Linked DNA regions of Homo sapiens. The protein of the gene in region 3 purifies or fractionates together with the protein of the main gene of each other region. This does not show direct contact. Each region holds a gene or a part of one and is shown on either strand. Other genes may lie near its edges.

Evidence for each region.
Region 1: the proteins of PTPDC1 (region 3) and PTGES3L purify together in Homo sapiens (affinity purification with mass spectrometry, with the first as the bait; one large-scale study listed by BioGRID). This does not show direct contact.
Region 2: the proteins of PTPDC1 (region 3) and GPSM1 purify together in Homo sapiens (affinity purification with mass spectrometry, with the first as the bait; one large-scale study listed by BioGRID). This does not show direct contact.
Region 4: the proteins of PTPDC1 (region 3) and TIPRL purify together in Homo sapiens (affinity purification with mass spectrometry, with the first as the bait; 2 studies listed by BioGRID). This does not show direct contact.
Region 5: the proteins of PTPDC1 (region 3) and CSN3 purify together in Homo sapiens (affinity purification with mass spectrometry, with the first as the bait; one large-scale study listed by BioGRID). This does not show direct contact.
Region 6: the proteins of PTPDC1 (region 3) and FOXRED2 purify together in Homo sapiens (co-immunoprecipitation; one large-scale study listed by IntAct). This does not show direct contact.
Region 7: the proteins of PTPDC1 (region 3) and GAPVD1 purify together in Homo sapiens (affinity purification with mass spectrometry, with the first as the bait; one large-scale study listed by BioGRID). This does not show direct contact.

The regions. Positions count from the first base shown.
Region 1 is NC_000017.11:42,970,081-42,973,580, forward strand, and holds part of PTGES3L (putative protein PTGES3L), read right to left. Parts: intron 1,617-3,500; coding exon 1,527-1,616; intron 263-1,526; coding exon 209-262; intron 1-208. Other genes in the region: PTGES3L-AARSD1 protein, read right to left, coding at 209-262, 1,527-1,616.
Region 2 is NC_000009.12:136,344,539-136,348,038, reverse strand, and holds part of GPSM1 (G-protein-signaling modulator 1), read right to left. Parts: intron 1-3,500. UniProt on the Homo sapiens protein: Guanine nucleotide dissociation inhibitor (GDI) which functions as a receptor-independent activator of heterotrimeric G-protein signaling.
Region 3 is NC_000009.12:94,087,464-94,090,963, reverse strand, and holds part of PTPDC1 (protein tyrosine phosphatase domain-containing protein 1), read right to left. Parts: intron 3,134-3,500; coding exon 3,053-3,133; intron 2,820-3,052; coding exon 2,701-2,819; intron 1-2,700. UniProt on the Homo sapiens protein: May play roles in cilia formation and/or maintenance.
Region 4 is NC_000001.11:168,199,286-168,202,609, reverse strand, and holds the end of TIPRL (TIP41-like protein), read right to left. Parts: intron 2,708-3,324; coding exon 2,564-2,707; 3' UTR 501-2,563; downstream 1-500. UniProt on the Homo sapiens protein: May be a allosteric regulator of serine/threonine-protein phosphatase 2A (PP2A). Isoform 1 inhibits catalytic activity of the PP2A(D) core complex in vitro. The PP2A(C):TIPRL complex does not show phosphatase activity.
Region 5 is NC_000004.12:70,245,597-70,248,764, reverse strand, and holds part of CSN3 (kappa-casein precursor), read right to left. Parts: intron 948-3,168; coding exon 915-947; intron 1-914. UniProt on the Homo sapiens protein: Kappa-casein stabilizes micelle formation, preventing casein precipitation in milk.
Region 6 is NC_000022.11:36,486,690-36,490,040, forward strand, and holds the end of FOXRED2 (FAD-dependent oxidoreductase domain-containing protein 2 isoform 1 precursor), read right to left. Parts: coding exon 3,319-3,351; 3' UTR 501-3,318; downstream 1-500.
Region 7 is NC_000009.12:125,352,326-125,355,825, forward strand, and holds part of GAPVD1 (GTPase-activating protein and VPS9 domain-containing protein 1), read left to right. Parts: intron 1-2,328; coding exon 2,329-2,516; intron 2,517-3,318; coding exon 3,319-3,500. UniProt on the Homo sapiens protein: Acts both as a GTPase-activating protein (GAP) and a guanine nucleotide exchange factor (GEF), and participates in various processes such as endocytosis, insulin receptor internalization or LC2A4/GLUT4 trafficking.

The DNA.
Region 1 (3,500 bases), on a different chromosome or scaffold from region 3:
CGGGCCACTGCACTCCAACCTGGGCGAAAGAGTGAAACTCCTCCCCCACCCCCCAAAAAAAGAATATTAGCCCTCTTGGGTCAAACTCAAATTTGGTTAACAGGCACTGAGAACTACTGTGTGCTAGGAACTGGGATAGGAGCTCTCTAGTGGGTTGTTTTTAAGGGCTACAAAGAAACTGAAGGGTTGAGGGGAAGGCTTTACTTACATCCAAATCATCCATGGCAGGTGGAGGTCTCTTGGTGCTGACCTTCTTCAAAAGCTAGTGGGAAGAAAAAATAATCACAAGGGAGAAGGGAGTGAAGGAAGAACAATCTGCACATTGATGGTCCATAGAAGAATGGTTGCAGCCAGAACTGGTCAGGCAACTGCTCCCATCTTTAAAACATCACTGGAATTAATTTGAGAAAAGTAAATTGATCCCCTTCTTAAAAGAAAATTTAACACAAATCCAGATTGGAGTCGGCTAGTGTTTTTATAACTGAAACCAAATAATATAACGACAGTGTGTGATTTACTGGGGGCCAATTATTTATGATGTGAGTTTTTATACTGCTAGTTTTAACATCCCATGAAGTTGTCTGGCTTAACACGCGCACACACACACACACACACACACACACACACACACACACACAGAGGCCGGGTTTGGTGGCTCACATTTGTAATGTGAGCACTTTGGGAGGCTGAGACAGACAGATCACTTGAGGCCAGGAGTTCCAGACCAGCCTGGCCAACATGATGAAACCCCATCTCTACCAAAAATACAAAAAAAAATTAGCCAGGGGTGGTGGCGCATGCCTGTAATCCCAGCTACTCAGGTGGCTGAGGCACAAGAATCACTTGAACCTGGGAAGTGGAGGTTGCAGGGAGCTACTGCACTCCAGCCTGGGAGACAGAGCAAGACTCTGTCTCAAAAAGAAAACCACACACACAGGCCAGGCATGGTGACTTACGCCTGTAATCCCACCACTTGGGAGGGTGAGGCAGGTGGATCACCTGAGGTCAGGAATTTGAGACCAGCCTGGCCAACATGGTGAAACTCCGTCTCTACTAAAAAAATACAAAAATTATCCAGAAGTGGTGGTGGGCACCTGTAATCCCAGCTACTCAGGAGGATGAGACAAAATTGCTTGAACCCAGAGGCAGAGGTTGCAGTGAGCTGAGATCGCGCCATTGCACTCCAGCCTAGGCGACAGAAAACCACACACACACACACACACACAGAAAACAGTAGAACAAGAATTACAGAAAAGTGGAAAAACGTTTTGTCAAACTTCTTCAGAATACAGGCTCTACACTGAATAAGTGAATCAATGTATATAATTTCAATAATATTCTTTCCTCTCATCCCTATTAAATAAACATTGCACAAAATACGTAAAGAATATCAGCATCAATGAGTAACCTGCCTAGAGAGCTTGCATATCTCTGCTTGGCCCCAGTGACAATCCTCCAGAGACATGTGTGCAGAGAAACACAAAGAATGATCAAGTGGGCAGAACACAGTAGGTGTTGTCTCTCACCTCTGCATAATGTTCCACATGAGCCAGCTCCATCTCTTCATCCCCTTCCCAGTCTCTCCAGTTATCAAAGTCCACAGACAGCCACACTGGCTGCAAGAAGAGGCACCAAGAGTCACAGGCCAGGAGGGCAGGAGCAGGAGTGTGTGGGAGAGTGTGGGCATATGCATGGGAGCACGCCTGGGGAAAAGAGGGTCAGTAGGTCCCTAGTCCTCCCAACTGCACTCCTTTGACCAGGAACCTGCCAATCTACACACAAAGCTAGGCATGATAGAGTCTGAAAATCTCAGAAGTCCTACCCTCCGGCCAGGCGTGGTGGCTCATGCCTGTAATCTCAGCACTTTGGAAGGCCGAGGCAGGAGGATCACAAGGTCAGGAGTTCGAGACCAGCCTGGCCAATATGGTGAAACCTCGTCTCTAGTAAAAATACAAAAATTATCCGGGCGTGGTGACGGGCACCTGTAGTCCCAGCTACTCGGGAGGCTGAGGCAGGAGAATTGCTTGAGCCTGGGAGGCGGAGGTCGCAGTGAGCCAAGATCGTGCCACTGCACCCCAGCCTGGGTGACAGAGCAAGACTGCATCTCAAAAAAAAAAAAAAAAAAAAAAAGAAGTCCCACCCTCCAGGAGCCGATTGACTGAGGAGACAACACATCTGGAAAGATAATTGTATCATAAAGCAACATAGGCATTATGCCCTCTCTCTCTCCCTCTCCCTCTCCCCCTCCCCCTCCCCCTCCCCATGGTCTCCCTCTCTTTCCACGGTCTCCCTCTCATGCGGAGCCGAAGCTGGACTGTACTGCTGCCATCTCGGCTCACTGCAACCTCCCTGCCTGATTCTCCTGCCTCAGCCTGCCGAGTGCCTGCGATTGCAGGCACGCACCGCCACGCCTGACTGGTTTTGGTGGAGACGGGGTTTCGCTGTGTTGGCTGGGCCGGTCTCCAGCCCCTAACCGCGAGTGATCCGCCAGCCTCGGCCTCCCGAGGTGCCGGGATTGCAGACGGAGTCTCGTTCACTCAGTGCTCAATGGTGCCCAGGCTGGAGTGCAGTGGCATGATCTCGGCTCGCTACAACCTACACCTCCCAGCCGCCTGCCTTGGCCTCCCAAAGTGCTGAGATTGCAGCCTCTGCCCGGCCGCCACCCCGTCTGGGAAGTGAGGAGTGTCTCTGCCTGGCCGCCCATCGTCTGGGATGTGAGGAGCCCCTCTGCCTGGCTGCCCAGTCTGGAAAGTGAGGAGCGTCTCCGCCCGGCCGCCATCCCATCTAGGAAGTGAGGAGCGCCTCTTCCCGGCCGCCATCACATCTAGGAAGTGATGAGCGTCTCTGCCCGGCCACCCATCGTCTGAGATGTGGGGAGCACCTCTGCCCCGCTGCCCCATCTGGGATGTGAGGAGCGCCTCTGCCCGGCCGCGACCCCGTCTGGGAGGTGAGGAGCGTCTCTGCCCGGCCGCCCCGTCTGAGAAGTGAGGAGACCCTCTGCCTGGCAACCACCCCGTCTGAGAAGTGAGGAGCCTCTCCGCCCGGCAGCCACCCCATCTGGGAAGTGAGGAGCGTCTCTGCCCAGCAGCCACCCCATCCGGGAGGGAGGTGGGGGGGGGTCAGCCCCCCGCCCGGCCAGCCGCCCCGTCCGGGAGGGAGGTGGGGGGGTCAGCCCCCCGCCCGGCCAGCCGCCCCGTCCGGGAGGTGAGGGGCGCCTCTGCCCGGCGGCCCCTACTGGGAAGTGAAGAGCCCCTCCGCCCGGCCAGCCGCCCCGTCCGGGAGGGAAGTGGGGGGGGTCAGCCCCCTGCCCGGCCAGCCGCCCCGTCCGGGAGGTGAGGGGCGCCTCTGCCCGGCCGCCCCTACTGGGAAGTGAGGAGCCCCTCTGCCTGGCCACCACCCCGTCTGGGAGGTGTGCCCAACAGCTCACTGAGAACGGGCCAGGATGACAATGGCGGCTTTGTGGAATAGAAAGGCGGAAAAGGTGGGGAAAAGATTGAGAA
Region 2 (3,500 bases), about 42 Mb from region 3:
ACTGGCCAGCTGCAGACTCAGCGGAGCCACCAGTGCCTGTCCCGGGCCCCTGGGAAGCCCCACAGCCAGGCCCACCTTCAAGCCTCAGTCCCAACACGGCCCTGGCAGAGACGGGTGTCACTCAGCCCTGTCCCAACACAGCCCTGGCAGAGACGGGTGTCGCTCAGCCCTGCGGGGCCCGAAAGGATTTGGGAGTTTGGGAGAGTGGGCCCTACCTCAGCCCAGCCGCTCCCTGAGCACTCTCAGGAGCCTGTATCCAGGGCACGACAGACCTGGCAGATCAGAAATCAGTTGGCGAACGGAAAAAATGGGATGGAATCCGGGAAGTGGGGAATGTCCTCAACCAGGCAGGAAGCCCTGTGGGAAGGGCCCGATGCTGTGGCTGAGAGCCAGGGTCTGCGGGCGCTTCCCTGAGGAGGCGGCGGGACGGACAGGGGCACAGCCACTGTGGAAAGGGCAGCAGAACGTTCTAGGCAGAGGGGACGACGGCGGAACGAGGCTGACACTGAGGACCCTGTCTCTGCTGTCCCTACGCCTGGCACATCTCCAGGGAGACTCTCGCAGCTGGGAGGACCCTCATCCTCCTCCCTGCTCACCCACAGCTCCCACCCCCCTATGCCCACCCTTACCCAGTCTTCCTGGGAACCAAGCGTCCCTCCACCCGTGGACACACTGGACACGGGCTGTGCCCAGGAGCCCTGCGCACACCCAGTGTGAGTCCGAGGGCGGGGCCAGAACCAGCCCTGGCATCAGTGGGCACTCTGAGAATCCAGTCCTGGCACCTCCAGACCATCAGACTTGGCCCCATTACTACGCCTCGGAGCTCAGCGCCCTCCTCATCAGACTGCGCCGGCATGGATGGGCCGGGCCGGGCAGTTCCCCTCCGCACTCATCCCCCCGAGAGGCTCAGCTCCTAAAGTGAAGCTGCTTGGTGGCTGCCTGCATCAGGCAGATGTCGGGGGGCAGGCCCAGACACCCCCTTACCCTGTCCAGGCCCCACTGCATCAGGGAGCACAGCCACCAGGGTTGGGGCACTCGTCAAAGTTAGCAGCATGAATGGCCAGGCAGGGTGCCGGGGCCTCAGGTGCACCCGGACCCCACCGTTAGCCCTGGGTTCTGGGCCCTGCCGGGGAACACAACATCCACAGAGGGAGAGAGCCGGCTCAGGCGGGCAGTCACTCGGTCATTTCAGGCACTGGGCCCCACACACAGCCCCTCCCAGCCTCACCTGCACAGCTGTCACTCAGCCAACATCCCCCTGACCCCAGCCTCAGCAGGGCCCTGATTTAAATATGAGCCTGGCCCCGACCATGAGGGAGGGAGGAAATGGGCCCGAGTGTCAGGGTCTCTCAGGGTCTCCCTTACAGGCCCATGCTGCGGATGAGAACAGGCCTGGGTCTTGCTGGGGGGCTGCTGTCTGAGCATTGTGCCACCAAATGGAGTCCAAGCCTCCACCCCCAACTGGGAAGGGGGTCCTGCTGCCACCTAGTGAATGGCAGTGATGAGGATGCACTGGGGGCTTCAGACGGCTAAGAAGGCACCTGGTGGACAGCAAGGTGCTACCTATGGGGCAGAGGGGAGCCCCTGGATCGGCCTGGCTGCTAGCAGCCCCTTCCTGAGTCTGTCCATGTGACCCGTTTAAATGGTGAGCTCCTAAACGCAGCTGGGGGGAAGGGGACAGGAGCAGAGGGAGCTGAGGACTTGGGGGCCCAGGCTGGTCTTCCGCCTCCAGCCCGCTGGCCCCAGACCAGCCCACGGCGAATGCCTACAGCTTCATGAGAGCTGGGCAGGGACCGGGAACTGGCTGAGTGTGGGCTGTGCGCTTCCCTGGCCTGGCCTCTGGGCTCCGAGGACACACCCTAAGCTCCTGCTCTCCAGGGGCCTGGGATGGAAACCTGTGCGGCCAGAGGCACACGTGGGGCCCATCAGGGGCCTGAGCAGGACACTGGGACCTGGGGCCGTCCACTGCTCCTCCCACTCCCAACACAAACGCCCGGGGCAGGGCTCCCATCGCCACCCTGTGGCCACAGTGGTCAGCGGGATCAGGGTTAGCTCCGGCACATTCAGGATCCGGCCAGGCACTGAGGTGGAGCCGCCCCAGCCTCGGGTGGTGCAGCTTGAAGGGACAGAACGGGGCTGGGGTCGACGGCCTGTTCTCTGAAGGGCCACCAGCTGCCCACCCCCACCCAGATGAGCAAGGTAGCTCTGAGGACAGCTGCTGACCCCACACAGTTCGGGGCCTGCTCCCCACACCATGGAAATGACAGAGGAGCACGTCTGTGCTGGGGCGGGCCCTTCACTTACCACACCCAGCGAGAGCCCCGCTCCGTCTCCCGGTGTGCACTGCCTGAGGGCCTGGCTCTCCCTCTGCCGCCCCCAGTGCCATGGGGGCCTAAGTTGGTTTCCCCACCGCATCCTCCGGGTCCTGGGCCCGGCACAGCTGCTTCTGCCAGGCCTGGCCCTCCACCAGGACACCGCATGGATGGGCCCTGGCTGCAGCAGCGGCTGAAATGCTCTTCTGAGACACAGCCTGCGTCTGGCCCCAGGGCGGGCGCCCTCATGGCCAGGCACGGACGGTGGGCGGAAGGCCCGCTGCGCCTGGCTCAATGCACCCTCTGTCTGCAGAGTCGGCTGAGGCGTTGAGTGTGAGTCCAGCGCCCTTGGCTGAGCTGCCCAGACAGGCCCGGCCCACTGGCTTGGCTTCCTGTCTCTCCCGCCTGCGAGGGCAACGTTTGGAAACTTCTCCCAGCACCGCCCCATGGCCACCCGACGCTGACCGTCACACTGTCATCATCATTTCTGTCCTCACCCAGCTCCAGACGTTTATGTGCAATGGCCAACTCAAGCCCATCGAGCATCTTGGTGCCCCCTGTGCCTGCCGGACCCCTCAGGGCAGCACCCGCCCCGCCGGCTTGGCTCAGACCTCAGCAACCCCGATTTTCAGCTGCCCACGGTTCCTTCACGCCCACCTCTGGTCTGAAATCCAGTCTGTCCCCGCCTCACTGCAGATCCAGAGTCCCACCCCTCCTCACCTCCCTGGAGCCGGATCACCTGCCCCTCACCTGCCTGCTGCCCCAGCCTTGCCCCTAAGTCCCCTCTCCATGCAAGGACCATGGGGTTGGTAAGGGCTGGCCTAGGCCTTGCCCCTTCTCTGCTGGGTCCTGAGGGCCCCGCCCCATTGGGGAGGGGGTCTCACACAAGGGCCCACGAGGCCCTCCCTTCTTCGGCCAAGGCCCTCGCCTTGCTCCGTCAGCTCCAGACAGTCTCCCTGTCCCTTCACCTACCAGGCTGGCCCCTGCCTCAGGCCCTTTGCACAGGCTGTTATCTCTGCCCAGACTGCTGTTCCTCCGTCTAAGCTTGCGGCTCACTTCTCTCTGACTTCCAGTCTTTGCTGGAGCATCATGATCAAAGCCCTAACTCCCCATGGGATGGTGTTAGGAGGTCCTGAGGTTTACATGAGGTCATGAGAATGGAGCCCCATAATGACAAGTGGCCTTAAG
Region 3 (3,500 bases):
CTGACAGGCAACTTCAGCAAAGTCTCAGGATACAAAATCAATGTACAAAAATCACAAGCATTCTTATACACCAACAACAGACAAACAGAGAGCCAAATCATGAGTGAACTCCCATTCACAATTGCTTCAAAGAGAATAAAATACCTAGGAATCCAACTTACAAGGGATGTGAAGGACCTCTTCAAGGAGAACTACAAACCACTGCTCAAGGAAATAAAAGAGGACACAAACAAATGGAAGAACATTCCATGCTCATGGGTAGGAAGAATCAATATCGTGAAAATGGCCATACTGCCCAAGGTAATTTACAGATTCAATGCCATCCCCATCAAGCTACCAATGACTTTCTTCACAGAATTGGAAAAAACTACTTTAAAGTTCATATGGAACCAAAAAAGAGCCCGCATCACCAAGTCAATCCTAAGCCAAAAGAACAAAGCTGGAGGCATCACACTACCTGACTTCAAACTATACTACAAGGCTACAGTAACCAAAACAGCATGGTACTGGTACCAAAACAGAGATATAGATCAATGGAACAGACCAGAGCCCTCAGAAATAACGCCACATATCTACAGCTATCTGATCTTTGACAAACCTGACAAAAACAAGCAATGGGGAAAGGATTCCCTATTTAATAAATGGTGGTGGGAAAACTGGCTAGCCATACGTAGAAAGCTGAAACTGGATCCCTTCCTTACACCTTATACAAAAATCAATTCAAGATGGATTAAAGACTTAAACGTTAGACCTAAAACCATAAAAACCCTAGAAGAAAACCTAGGCATTACCATTCAGGACATAGGCATGGGCAAGGACTTCATGTCTAAAACACCAAAAGCAATGGCAACAAAAGACAAAATTGACAAATGGGATCTAATTAAACTAAAGAGCTTCTGCACAGCAAAAGAAACTACCATCAGAATGAACAGGCAACCTACAAAATGGGAGAAAATTTTTGCAACCTACTCATCTGACAAAGGGCTAATATCCAGAATCTACAATGAACTCAAACAAATTTACAAGAAAAAAACAAACAACCCCATCAAAAAGTGGGCAAAGGACATGAACAGACACTTCTCAAAAGAAGACATTTATGCAGCCAAAAAACACATGAAAAAATGCTCATCATCACTGGCCATCAGAGAAATGCAAATCAAAACCACAATGAGATACCATCTCACACCAGTTAGAATGGCAATCATTAAAAAGTCAGGAAACAACAGGTGCTGGAGAGGATGTGGAGAAATAGGAACACTTTTACACTGTTGGTGGGACTGTAAACTAGTTCAACCATTGTGGAAGTCAGTGTGGCAATTCCTCAGGGATCTAGAACTGGAAATACCATTTGACCCAGCCATCCCATTACTGGGTATATACCCAAAGGACTATAAATCATGCTGCTATAAAGACACATGCACACGTATGTTTATTGCGGCACTATTCACAATAGCAAAGACTTGGAACCAACCCAAATGTCCAACAATGATAGACTGGATTAAGAAAATGTGGCACATATACACCATGGAATACTATGCAGCCATAAAAAATGATGAGTTCATGTCCTTTGTAGGGACATGGATGAAATTGGAAATCATCATTCTCAGTAAACTATCGCAAGAACAAAAAGCAAACACCGCATATTCTCACTCATAGGTGGGAATTGAACAATGAGATTACATGGACACAGGAAGGGGAATATCACACTCTGGGGACTGTTGTGGGGTGGGGGGAGGGGGGAGGGATAGCATTGGGAGATATACCTAATGCTAGATGACGAGTTAGTGGGTGCAGTGCACCAGCATGGCACATGTATACATATGTAACTAACCTGCACAATGTGCACATGTACCCTAAAACTTAAAGTATAATAAAAAAAAATTAAAAAAAAATAAAATAAAAATGTAAATATGAAAAAAAAAAGACATTTCCTGCAGAAACTCAGCCAGAAAGAATTATGGCGAAGTATAATTACAAATTAATAAAGTCAATGATTCATGCTATAGTTACTCAGCTTTGGAGAGAAAGCATACATTCTTGTTTAAGCAGGGAAATGTGTCTAAATGACTGATAAATAGCTTAAGACAGTATATATGGATTTTCTATCTAGTGTAAATAAGCTTCTTAAAAACAAGTTCCAAGATTGTTTATCCTTTCCAGCCTGGTTTGAAGGACACATGTTGAGTGTATTTCATCCCAAAGCTCCTGTGATTGAGGCGGCTTTGAAATTGTTAGAAGTAGAATTCCTGGGCATCATTTTGGGAGCAGGGCTGGACAGCAGTAAACCTGGAGCATGTCCAGGTTCCAAACCTGACTACCATTTCTAAGCTGTGTGATCTTAGGCAAACAGGTAATTCTCTAAGCCCCGTGTGGCTTCATATGTAAAACAGAAATAATAATTTTGTTACACAACTGCTTTAAGGGTTAAATGAGATAATAGTGACTGGCACACTGTAAGCATTAACTAAATGTTAATCATTATTACTACAGGGTCTCCTCCCAACATCCCTCTTACAGGAACAAAGAAATCCTTTACTTTCAACAGCAATACCAAAGAGAATGGTAGCTCATTTTTTCTAAACCTTACTATGATGCAGAAGGTATTTATTTCCATCATCTTTTTAATCTAAGAACCCAGCAGAGAAAAGCCTCTGAGTGCTGCCCTTGATAATTCATGAGAGGAGGGTGGGAGGAACTTACTGCCAGCCTCCATGAAAGCCTCAGGAAGGTATGTGAAGCCACTTTCTTGTTCCAGAGGGTTCCCACAGCTAGCATGCTCACCAGGGCGCTGGAGGTTGATTATTGTTTTTATGCCATGGCTTAAAGGAAAAAGGGCAGTCAGTCATATTGGGAGCTAGCATTTAAAAAAAATTAACCATTTTTGGTATTAATCAACATTATTAATTACTCTCAAAAATCTTAATTTCTCATTTGAAATACACTCTTCACTGCCTATTGTTAAAATGAAAGCACTCTTTCACTTGAAACAAAGGCAATGAAAGAAAAAAACACATGAGTTTGCTCACTCGTGTGTGAACAATACAGCATTTACCTGAGGAACTGATCAATGATGTGGTACTTCTCCAGGAGCTCAGAGGATGGGCGGGCCATGGCCAGTATATTATCAGTGACCCTGCAAATAGGTGGAGGGACTGGTGAGATGTGCTGAAACCTAGGAAGTTCCAGTCCAAAGAGATGTTCCAGTCCTGAGAGATGATTTTTTCTATGATTTCAACAACTCTGTTAGAATATTCTTTTTTGTGTATAAATTTTATTTGAACAGATAATACAGTTTCATGGTTCAATAAAATCAAAACAATACAAAAAGGTATGCACTAAAATGTTTGCTCTCAACCGTTTTCATCCACTCCATTCAGTTTGTTCCCCATATGTAATCATTTGTATTAACTTCATGTTTACCATCTTAGTGTTTATTTTTGCAAATATAAGCAAATATGAATATTTATTCTTATTTATCTGCTTTTTCTTGTACAAAAGGT
Region 4 (3,324 bases), on a different chromosome or scaffold from region 3:
ACTAAAGTTAGTTGATTTTCTGTTACTCTCTTGTCAGTATCATTTCCATCACTGCACATATTAAAATTAGTAATTTTTTTACTTTGTCTCCTCCATTAGACTTTAATCCTATAAAAACATATACTACATCGCTTCATTGTTGTAATCTATTATACCTAGCACCATAATTGTACATATAGTACTCAAAACTAATACATACGACAGGTATTCATATTTTCAAAAACCAAAAACATTAACCCAACATACAGAAAATACTGTTAAAAAACATCCATGGAAATATTGATGAACAGAGGGAGAGGAGAGGCAAGAGCCCAAATGCAAACTGGGAAATTGTATTCTGAACCATCAGTTAGGTTTTAATTTATAACCTGCCTGGAGACTGTCTACAGTGTTGACTGAGTTCAAAACATAAAGCACAAATAAGAAAAGTATACCCCAAACCACACTTCTTTAATTAAGCTCTAAGAAAAACTCAAATAAATGAAATAGTAAAACTTTGATCAGTAATTCCTTATTGTTTATTCTCCTCTTACAAAAAGACACTTGGGACAAATAAATACAAAATGGCATATATCATATTTAGCAATGGGCAAATACACATTTTCTTGGTATTCTCCACAAGAATAAACTAATAAAATTTTCAGAGGCATACTCTTCTACCCATCTCTTACCCTCTAAAAAAAAAAAAGGCAATTATTTTAATTCCCTGTAATTTTTAACAATGAATTCTCAAAATAAGTAATCTAGGACTATTCAGGGACCAAGACATCTGAATCAACAAGTTAAAAAAAAAATGTCTGTATACACACACACACACACACACACACACACACACACACGATGTTGCCCAGAAGCTCCAATTAATGAAGAGTCTTAAAAGTTTTTCATTTCATATAGTTTGCATGAATAGAGCCTGTTCTATTCTAATCTCAATGGCAAATAATATAAAACAGAAAGCTGAACACAACATGTGTGTGTGTGTGTGTGTGTGTGTCTACTTTTCTGTCCTAAGAGAAAACATTAAATACAGGTATATTTAATATACAGTGAACATACCATGTGTTTTCTTAAAGCCAACAAAATCCTGATTTCCTATAGCTTGGAGGTGATACAGAAGGCAGAAGACAAATATCAAATTTAGCTAATAAAATATACCCTGCCTATTGGCTCCAGCAATACACTATAGAGTTTGAGCAATGACGGATACCCAAGTGTATATGTTTTGTTAAAATTTATCTTCAGGCTAATACCTGAAGAGGTTGGCTAATACTTTAAATCAAATATTCTTACTTAATGATTTATCCATCAAATGGAAATATGTACAACATATTTCAAATCAGAAAAGGGGTGAATTTTCCCCCTGCCCTTCAAAAAAATATTTTTAAAAATCCACTTGAAATAATTTCTTATTTGATGCTTTTTAATCACTTTCCACTTTATGACAACCATTTTTCTAGAAAGGCAGACAAGAATATAAAATGACTAAGGGGTCACTATGAAAACAATCAAATGGATTTGAAATTTACTTCTGTGTATTTTCTGTACTCCCTAAGTCTTGTGCTAATTAATTACATTTTACTTCATCCCCTGTAATGTTACAAATATGCACCTTAAAATAGAAAAACTTGCTTTTATATTTTAAAACCCCCTCCTCCTTACCTATCTTCCCAAATATTTTAAGCAGAAAATTAATCTTGTTGCTTTAAGGATTGATGTAATATTTGCGAAAAACAACCCCTAATAAACCCTTTAGACTTTTTCGAACCAGCACCAAATTTAAGGGGTTTATTCACTCTGAGGTTGCATGGAAGATGGAAATTAAAAATATCAGTATAAGTAGAACCACATTTAAGAAAAAGCACCTAAAGATGGAGGACAGATAATTCTAACATCCTACACACACACAGTGGTAAACCATATTCATGTTTCTATGTATGTAATAAGTTCTCCAAAAATCTAGGTATTTTTGGTTCTGGTACTAAGTCTAAATTTTTTTTTTTTAAATTTCAAAGGCAATTTAAAACTGGGGGGAAATACATTTTTAAAATTTTGGGGTTGAAGTTCACTACACTATGAGACTAATTTCGTATGTGGCAAGTTGCAACTCTCCAAAGGTGTGAATAAACATCAGAAAGCCCAAAGTGAAGAGCCAGTACATCAACATGCATGATCAGGAATCCTATGAAAGTCACAAGGCATTGGGATTTGGTGATTTACATTAACCTCCTCCTGGTAGAAGATAGTGTTTCATGATGAATGCAGACTGTGCTCACTGCTCATGAGACACACACATCACTACTGCTGAGGTCCCACTTTGTGATAATTTAGAAATCATCCAAATTTAACTCCAGAAAATATAAATCTGGAATATGAATGTGAAGACAGACAGTACAAACAGCAGTTGAGTGAAACCTGCCTGTAACGATCTTTATTTTTTTTTCCTTTAAGGCTACAGAAAATCTGTACATAAACAAGGCAATTAATTCTCATAATAAAAATAACCCCTTACAAATAGCCAAGGTGTCCAGTCAGATTCCATAGTGAGTATATGTTGTATCACATTTTATTCCACTTGTGTACTTTTTTGTGAGTCTGCTGGGTTAGGATCAATTCTTTCTGGAAATATTAGCTTCTCACAAACTGCTTCCTTTATTGGTAAATACTGGGATATTTCATTAGGTTCCGTGAAGAGGGAAGGTGGAACATGCTAGGAAATACATAAATCATATTAGCATATTCAGTTACTGTACTGAAATTTTTTACAAATGTTTTGGTTCAAGCATTCATAAAGCATGGAAATTTTAAAATCAGGTGCAATATATGCATATGTGCTCCTAAAAATAATAGGTATTTCTTGATACGGAATCATTCAACTTTGTTACTGAATGATTTCATCAAAGATCACAGGGTTATATAATCTATAATGTTCCCACAAATGTCCTAAGAATTTAATACATCTTAATCCAACCCTATGTATCTCCTGCTTTTGTAACTTGAAAACACTAGTCTTCGGTTAGAGCACAGCATGTAGTCTACAATAGAATCTAAGTAGTAACTTTTCTGTTCCAAGTATACTCTATACCCAGACAGAAGTACATACTAAGCGTGAAAAAATAAAATCAAGTTTATAGGAAGGTACCAATTTTTAAGCAACCCATTATAGAATCCTAAGTTCTAAGGAAGGCTTCACAGGTCCCGGGGAGTAAAAAATAAAGAAAAATGATGCCAAAACAAACAAATTATGGTACAGAATCACCACATTTTCGGAAGAGAAAAGGAGACTATGTAGAAAGAAATAAGGCGGCAGGGTGGTAAGTGTAAAGA
Region 5 (3,168 bases), on a different chromosome or scaffold from region 3:
AAGAAATTAGATGAGTTTATTCATAATGTAAACCATATTGCCCAGAGATTGGCATATATGGAAAGTGATCTTATATGTTAGCTATTGTAGGTACAACACAGAGAAAAATCTCATTGAGAACTTTGACATGTTATACACAAGCACAACATGCAGACACACACAGAATGGCGCACACACACGTATGTATTCTCACCACATATTTGTAATTGGTCTCAAATTTTATTCATTTAAAAATTAGCCCAAGAGCACATTTATTTTTTCCTAAACTATAGCAGAATAGTAACATAATGTGATGTGGAGAGATTCCTGGATTTAGATTTTGGATTTTTTTTGGTTTAATTTTCTTCACAAAAGATTAGATAAAGAATTGTCTATATCTATGTGCCTCTGTTTAAAAATTTGTCAGTAGACCTTTCCATATGAATAGAAATAAATTGACAAAATTATACTACAAAGCAAACATTTCTCCTAAAACGAGACACATTTAAATGTATTCAAACATATTTGGGAAACGAAAGGGGAAGTAAATATAGATGTATGAGAAGTATTCAAAGATGGGTCAGAAAAGGATCTTCCCTTGTCTTAAAAAGTGGAAAGGGGAAATATTAAGCTTTACTTATGTTTTCATTTTTTTCCAATATGAAATGTTGAAAGAGTTTTCTCATATTGCTAAATATACATGAAAACCAAAGATACATGATTTGGGTTATATAAGAAAATAAAACTTTCAGATGAACATCAATGTTGATTCATATCACCTGTTGCTGAAATTATTTTCTTGCAAATATTATTAGATTGTTTTATGGAAATGAAATATTTAGGTTTTAGACAGAAGGCATCTATAATACAATTGACCTTTGCAGAATATATTTTGTAGTTCATGCCTGTAACAGAAGTAATTAAAATAGACTTACTGCTGGTTGTTTCTGGTTTTGAACCTCCACAGCCTGGGGAGTTCCAGAAGAAGAAATAATGAGAAATAAGTTAAAAAAGAAAAAAAAAGTACTTAAATCAGTTAAAAAAATCTTTTGTGTTAAAGACAAAATATGTTTTCTTTTTATTTTTTAAAACATTTTTCATGAGTGATCTATGAGGCCTATGGACTACTTAAGAAGCAACAGTAGTCTAACTGATTAGTAATAATAAACTGCATGTTTATATTGTCTTTAAACATCACCACCTAGAATGAAAAAGTCACTGTGGGAAAAATCTAGTCATCTGACTCCCATGCCAACAAATATGCTTAAATGAAAAATATGAATAATTTCTATTTAGTTTTTATTAAATATACATTGTTAGATTGTTAAAAATTAGAGGAGCATTGAGCCTTTTTTCCTTTCTCTGCTCTCATACTAAGATGATTCATAAGGTTTACTTAGAAGATTTAAAATATTGCCTCTTGCATAAACTTAACATATAAATAATAGTGTTTTTAATACCATCTTTCATTTGTTTTTATAGTGCTTTTCTTAGTTTTGGATTGTGACATATTTAGAGAATCAGGAGTGAGAAAACAATTTTTATGGACACATATTTATAAAACTAAAAACTCCAAAGCTTTTAGAAACTTTTGAAAGGAGGTATAATATTAAATATTTTTAAATTGACAGTTCTGTTTTAGGACATTACACATGTATTCCTTGGGTATAAAATGACTCTAGAAACCTTTTGGAAGGTGTGAGTATAGAAAATCAGAAAATTGAGAAGGTAATAAAGTTTCCTTGCTTTGAGACAAAGACTTGCTTTTCTTTAAATATATTAAATCATTAGTTTAAAATGTAAAGAAGTAATATGAGGCCGGGCACATGTCTCACCCTGTAATCCCAGCACTTTGGGAGGCAGAGGTGGGTGGATCATCTGAGGTCAGGGGTTCAAGACCAGCCTGGCCAACATGGTGAAACCCTGCCTCTACTAAAAATACAAAAATTAGCTGGGCATGGTGGCGGGCACTTGTAGTCCCAGCTACTTGGGAGGCTGAGGCAGGAAAATCGCTTAAACCTGGGAAGCAGAGGTTGCAGTAAGCCAAGATTGTGCCACTGCACTCCAACCTGGGCGACCAAGCGAGACTCTGTCTCAAAAAAAAAAAAAAAAAAGAAGTAATATGAATATTGTAGAAAGTATACTTTAAAAAATTCTGACAATCTAGATACCTTAATGCGATATCAACCTATGTTATGTATTCCTGGTATATGCTTGTCTAAAAAGTATCCTGCATTTTTATAGGAAATGTGGTGTCTCTTTTTTTTATTTATATCATAGGTTTCATAGTTACATTTTTATAGTTGATAACTAAGTGATCAATGATTATGTCATGAAATGTTTATTTCTTATCGTTATCTATTAAGATAAAATTTTAATTATAAACAGAGTGATGATTAACATCTGTATACCAGTGGCCTTTTTAATAATTTTCGTTAATACCTTAAAATGATTTTTCACAAATGAGATTTGATTCTTTGATAGAAATTATGAAATTGTGGTATAGAAAAGTTGTGTCAAATTATAATGTCACCAATAGGCTATGTGTTTATGCAGTTTAGTGCATAAGTGCTAGTAAAATATTATCTAACTATTTTTATTTTGGGGGAAGGGATAAAATAGTACATATAACATGGTATCACATTGATGTTTTAATTTGTATAAATTTGACTACTCATAAGATTGAATGGTAAAATCAATAAATTTTTTTTTTTCTGTATATTTGTTCATGTCCCTGAGGCCTGAAGCCTTTGTGAAAATGGGAAGGAATGTTTGAAAGACGAATCCGGCTCAGGTAGCTCAGGAAGAGGTTGCTATGCAGCAGGGATTTGTAGATCATTTCATGATTTAAACTTTAAGCCCTATTACTCAAAGAGACAACCTAAGTTCCAAATGTTCAGGTGACCACAAAGTATTGAGTTGTAGAACTCAAAGTTTTAAAAGGTAATTTTGACTCCAAGAATTGACCTAATAGAATTAATGGACATGTTATACACAAGCACAACATGCAGGTAATAGAATTAATTAATAGATGTTAACTTAAAAGCAACTCTAAACTTAATAATAAATAAATATTACAGAGATTCACAGAACGAGGACTAGTGTTCCTCAAAATTTTACAATCTAGGAGGAGGACATATACCATTATTTATGCTTGCCTCCTTTGTCAGTGCCTAGAATACCCAGATG
Region 6 (3,351 bases), on a different chromosome or scaffold from region 3:
AATATTACTGTTGCTAGCTTTCTCCTTTTTATCTCTTACCTTACTTGGGGCATTTCCCATCTTGGGTCCTGGTTAAGCTCAATCTCCCCTGTTGGAGATGTCTCGCCTATCCTTTAGCCCCACCTGCTGGAGGCTCCTTGCATTCATGCACACTTTCAACCCCCAGAATATCCTGACCACCAAGGAAATACTTTGTCACCCCTGCGATGTTTCTTAGCTTGGTCTCTGCACACTTACTTGGTCGCTGTGGTACATGAGGATCCTTTCCCCCAGGTCGCCAGCCCGTTTCTTTCTGCCTTGCTGAGAGTATAGGTTTATTCGTCACACTGGTTGGTCTCGATTCCTTACCCCTGTGGCCACCGCAACAAGGCAGTGGGACGTGCCTCCTCATGGGAGAGGTCTAGACCCTCCTCAGAGGAGGATGGGAATCCCAAATGAGACCCCAAATTTGTTAGAAATAAATTTTCAGTGCCACAAAAGAAATAGCACTCAAACATACATTTTCTCAGCAAGGCAATTTTACTTCTATACAAGAGTGCGTCTCATGGATGGTGCAATGGCGAGAGCACACCGGAACAAGGGAGGGGAATGGGTTCTTATCCCTGATGCAGGTACCCCCTACTGCTGTGTTGTTCCCCTATGGGCTAGGGTTGGACCGCACAATCTAAGCTAATTCTGACTGGCTATTTTAAAGAGAGCAGGGGTATAAGCCAGAGTGGTGGGGTGAGAAGTTTAGACAGGAAAGATGGTTACGGACCAGGTGACTAAAGGTGACTCAGGTCAGAGCAGGTGACAGAGGCTAGGAGGGGATTGTTTACTGAAACTAGGGGCAAGGAGACATAAAGAATGAGGAAATTAAAAGTTAAAATGAAGAACAAAGAACAGGTGAGCTGAACATACTGATACATTGGTTCTTTGGAGAGGATCTCAGAACTCAATGTACTTAACAAATTACAGGCTAAAACCTTTGAAGAAGAATTTATGATATCCTACATTATCATGGGGTAAACAATTCGTCCCTGACAGAATAAGGCTACTGGAGTTCTCTTCTTGTAACTCTGGGAAGGACTAGAGGGAACTGTGTCTGCAGTGGGGCCAGGTAGTTAAAAAGTCTGGACTGGGCCGAGCGTGGTGGCTCATGCCTGTAATCCCAACACTTTAGGAGGCCAAGACAGGTGGATCACCTGAGGTCAGGAGTTCGAGACCAGCCTGGCCAATGTGGTGAAACCCTGTCTCTACTAAAAATACAAAAATTAGCTGGGCGTGGTGGCAGGCGCTTGTAATCCCAGCTACTTGGGAGGTTGAGGGAAGAGAATTGTTTAGACCCGGGAGGCAGAAGTTGCAGTGAGCCGACATCGTGCCATTGCACTCCAGCCTGGGTGACAAGAGCGAAATCCATTGCAAAAAAAAAAAAAAAGAAAAAGAAAAAGTCTGGACCAAGCCAAGAGGGGAAGAGGACGTCCCCATGAAAGAGCTTTGGATCCAGAAAGCCCGGGTTCTTGGAATTCTTTTTCTCTTTTCACTTTTGTTGTAGCATACTTTGTTCTTTTTTATTTTTTATTTTTTTGAGATGGGGTGTGGGGGCTTTACTGTGGGTCTTGCTTTGTCACCTAGGCTGGAGTACAGTGGCTCGGTCTCTGCTCACTGCAACCTCCACCTCCCAGGTTCAAGCAATTCTCCTGCCTCAGCTTCCCAAGTAGCTGGGATGACAGGCATGCTCCACCATGCCCAGCTAATTTTTTTTACCGTTAGTAGAGACAAGGTTTTGCTATGTTGGCCAGGCTGGTCTCGAATTCCTGAGCTCAGGTGATCGGCCCACTTTGGCCTCCCAAAGTGCTGGGATTACAGGTGTAAGCAACTGTACCCAGCGCATGTTTTATTTTAATTTAATTTAATTAACTTATTTTTTGAGATGGAGTTTCCCTCTTGTTACCTAGGCTGGAGTGCAATGGCGCAATCTCGGCTCACTGCAACCTCTGCCTCCCGGGTTTAAGTGATTCTCCTGCCTCAGCCTCTCCAGTAGCTGGGATTATAGACATGTGCTACCACGCCTGGCTAGTTTTGTATTTTTAGTAGAGATAGGGTTTCTCCATGTTGGTCAGGCTGGTCTCAAACTCCTGACCTCAGGTGATCCACCTGCCTGGGCCTCCCAGAGTGCTGGGATTGTCCTTGGAATTCTGAGTGGATACATGAAGAGTTAGTAAGAACCAGTGAAAAAGCAATCACTTATGATCCTGGGCTTTGAAAAATCACTGTGATTATCTTATGCACTTACAAATGAGACTAAGACGCCTGATGGGAAAGTGCAGATTGCTGGTGAGGAAGGGCAATGAAGAAGAGACTAGGAACCAAATTCATCATCATTATCACACAAAGGCATTTGGAAATGTCACCTTACACATGGTGAGCACATATGGGTGCCAGCCCGAGACAGCAGGATAAGTTTCACAAAACTTGACCAGGCAGGTTAGAAGCAAGGCATGGTTCAGGATGGCAGAGGGCAGGGAGACAGAAGGGAGTAGGATGGGAGAGAAGAGCCAGCTGGAAGATGAGTCAGGGGGTGCAACTGGGGAGAGCAGCTCTGAATCCTGCTTCTCAGTGAGAAAGTTGCTAAGATGGCTTTGCAGGGAGCTGTCCTATCGCTGCTCGAGATCAGCCTGCTGGGCCTATGATGATAAGCAGGGCTGACCCTCTTGGGCTCTGTAGCTAAGCCCAAACCCTGCTGAAAATGGGGCGGGGAGGTTGAGGCAGTGTGTGGCAAGTGACACAGACGGGGACTCCCAGCTGGGGGTCCCTGGAATTACTTGACATCCCACAGCTGGTGTCTTCAGCAGTCATCTGGGGCAACAATCCCACCTGCCCATTGTGGTTGTTGAGGATATCAGAGCTTTTGTTTTAAAGCGCTTGCCACAAACTCTTAAGATGCGGATGGGTTTCCCCTGTGAAGCACTCCACAGGCGGGATGCAGGCCCATCTGAGGAGGGGCTTGGAAGGAAGAGGAGCACTTGAGACGGGGCAGAACTGGGCTGGCCTGGGGCTCAGCGACAGCTCCATTGCAGACAAACTGGGCTGGGGAAGGCAGCTCCCACCTGGCAGAGGATGCCCTTCTGCCCCCTGACAGGAGGGAGGAGACCACCGCATCCCCGACTTTCAGCCCTCACGTGCCATCTGGTGGCTTTGCTGCAGACACTGCCATGATCTGAGTGGTCTTTGGCAATCACGCATTGGCGGGAGTGTGAGGTTGCGGGGAAAGAGGGACTGACCATGGGCCTAGGTGGGGAGGCCTGGCCACTGTGCCCACAGCTTAGGAAGGGACAGTCAGAGCTCCTCTTTGTTGCTATCGACGGACTG
Region 7 (3,500 bases), about 31 Mb from region 3:
CTTCTGCCTGGGCATCCAGGCGTTTCTATACATCTTTTGAAATCTAGGTGGAGGTTCCCAAACCCCATTCTTGACTTCTGTGCACCCACAGGCTCAACACCTCATGGAATCTGCCGAGGCTTGGGGCTTGCACTCTCTGAAGCCACAGCCTGAGCTCTGTGTTGGCCCCTTTCAGCCATGGCTAGAGCGGCCGGAGGGCAGGGCACCAAGTCCCTAGGCTGCACACAGCATGGGGACCCTGGGCCTGGCCCATGAAACCATTTTTCCTCCTAGGCCTCTGGGCCTGTGATGAGAGGGTCTGCCATGGAGACCTCTGACATGCCCTGGAGACATTTTCCCCATTGTCTTGGGAATTAATATTCAGCTCCTCATTACTTATGCAAATTTCTATAGCCAGCGTGAATTTCTTCTCAGAAAATGGGATTTTGTTTTCTATCGCATTGTCAGGCTGCAAAGTTTCTGAACGTTTATGCTCTGTTTCCCTTATAAAACTGTATGCTGGCCAGCATGGTAGCTCATGCCTGTAATCCTAGCACTTTGGGAGGCCAAGGCAGGTGGATCACCCGAGGTCAGGAGTTCAAGACCAGCCTGGCTGACATGGTGAAACTCTGTCTCTCCTAAAAATACAAAAAATTAGCTAGGTATGGTGGTGGGTTCCTGTAATCCTAGCTACTTGGGAGGCTGAGACAGGAGAATCGCTTGAACCTGGAAGCGGAGGTTACAGTGAGCTGAGATCACGCCACTGCACTCCAGGCTGGGCAACAAGAGTGAAACTCTGTCTCAAGAAAAAAAAAAAAATGAATACCTTTAATAGCACCCAAGTCACCTCTTGAATGCTTTGCTGCTTAGAAATTTCTTCTGCCAGATACTCTAAATCATCTTTCTCAAGTTCAAAGTTCCACAAATCTCTAGGGCAAGGGCAAAATGCCACCAGTGTCTTTGCTAAAACATAACAAGAGTCACCTTTGCACCAGTTCCCAACAAGTTCCTCATCTCCACCTCAGCCTGGACCTTATCGTTCATATCACTGTCAGCATTTTCGTCAAAGCCATTCAACAAATCTCTAGGAAGTTCCATACTTTCCCACATTTTCCTGTCTTCTTCTGAGCCCTCCAAACTGTTCCATCCTCTGCCTGTTACCCAGTTCCAAAGCTGCTTTCACATTTTCGGGTGTCTTTTTAGCAGTACCCCACTCTCGGTACCAATTTACTGTATTTGTCTGTTATTATGCTGCTGATAAAGACATACCTGAGACTGGGCAATTTAACAAAAGAAAGAGGTTTAATTGGACTTAACAGTTCCATGTGGCTGGGGAGGCCTCAAAATTATGGCGGAAAGTGAAAGGCACATTTCACATGGCAGCAGACAAGAGAAGAGAGCTTGTGCAGGGAAATTCCGTTTTTTAAAACAATCAGATCTCTTGAGACTTAGTATCACGAGAACAGCACAGGAAAGACATGCCTCCATGATTCAATTCCCTCCCACAACACATGGAAATTCAAGATGAGATGTGGGTGGGGAATACAGCCAAATCATATCAATTTCTAAGCAACATATTTGGATATTTACTCTGGAAATGTAGTTACAAATGAGCAGTTCCAAATAGAAGAGTGCAATTTACTTCAGCTTTGCACAAAAGCAGGTAAAGAGGTATGCCTATATTTTGAGGCTAGAACAACTAGAATATCATATTTCTTTTCTTAGTGGTGATAGGAAAGCCTACTTTCCTGGACCAGAGAAGCAGATGTAAGTAGCCTTAGGAATTGCTGTGCTTTTTCTGCTGCCAGTCCCCTGCTCATGATTATGGAGAAAAATGTAACTGAGATGCTTAGGTAGTGAGGAGGCTTCAAGGCTTAGGGAATGGGCACTCTAGTAAATGTGACATTTAGACTATAAGCAAGTAATTGGTGGGGGATGTTTGTGACCTAGTGACATATAACCTGTATTTGTTGTTATTGTTGGTCATCTGTAGCTGTCAATTTCCTATTAAGTATGAGGTCCTATAGCTCCAGTATAAAATACACCAAGTATGCAGAGGGGCTTAGTAACATTTAGTGAATTAGGTAACTAAGTCTTCAGCCCCATAGATCCTCCCAAACAAAATGCAAAATGGGTGTCTGTTCTGCAGCTGGCACCATGATCAGTCTCTACCATGTCTGCAGCCTGACATGCTACTTTGTATATGTGCTACTGAAGAGAGCACAGACATGCTACTTTGTAAAACCAGTCTGTGCAGTAATTTTTCTAAAGAAAAGTTAGGACCCTTATTCTTCAAAGAGAGTATGCACTGAATATATCTGATGTCATGCAAAGTATTTTTCCTTTTAGAAAAAGAGCCCCATATATTGCTTATCTCACTCGTTGTCGACAAGGACTACAGACCACACAGGCTCACCTGGAAAGGCTATTGCAAAGAGTTTTGCGGGACAAAGAAGTGGCCAATCGATACTTTACCACTGTCTGTGTGAGATTACTGCTTGAGAGCAAAGAAAAGAAGATCAGGGAATTCATTCAAGGTAACTCAATACCTTTAGTTTAAGCATCTCTTCACCTGTAATACTGTTGGGAAGATTTAGAAATACTGTTTTGTTTTGCTAGTTTGTTCAAGTATCTGCATGCCTTAAATACCCAATTATTTTATGGAATCTTAATAAATTAAACTTTGATGTCAAACCAATAAATTGCATTTTTCTCCTGGATTGAATATCTGTAGCTTACTTTTTAAATTGGGGACATTGGTAAATTTTTGGATCTATACAAATTTTCTCATTTTTTTTAAAAAGCCAAACATATTTTTTTTAGAAACTTTTGAGACGGAGTCTTGCTCTGTCGCCAGGCTGGAGTACAGTGGCGTGATCTCGGCTCACTGCAACCTCTGTCTCCCTGGTAGCTGCCTCAGCCTCCCAAGTAGCTGGGATTATAGGCACGTGCCACCACGCCCAGCTAATTTTCATATCTTTAGTAGAGATGGGGTTTCACCATGTTGGCCAGAATGGTCTCAATCTCCTGACCTCGTGATCCGCCCACCTCGGCTTCCCAAAGTGCTGGGATTACAGGCGTGAGCCACTGTGCCTGGCCTAGAAACATATTTTTATAACAAATTCCTTGCACTTAAACTTTCACATATTTCTTGCTTTTTCTCCTGATTTAATTATATGGCTACATATTGTCCTAAAATAAACTACACTGAAACACTTTTGGCTTTAAGATCATGGTGTCTGCATAGCTAGTGATTAAAATTATTTCTATGATTTCCTTTTTAAAATTATTTAGATAGTTTTTATTAAACTATTTAAAAATTATTATTTTGCTTTGGAGACTTTCAGAAACTCACCGCAGCTGACGATAAAACTGCTCAGGTAGAAGATTTTCTGCAGTTTCTTTATGGTGCAATGGCCCAGGATGTCATATGGCAAAACGCGAGTGAAGAACAGCTTCAAGATGCACAGCTGGCCATTGAGCGAAGCGTGATGAACCGGATTTTCAAGCTCGCCTTCTAC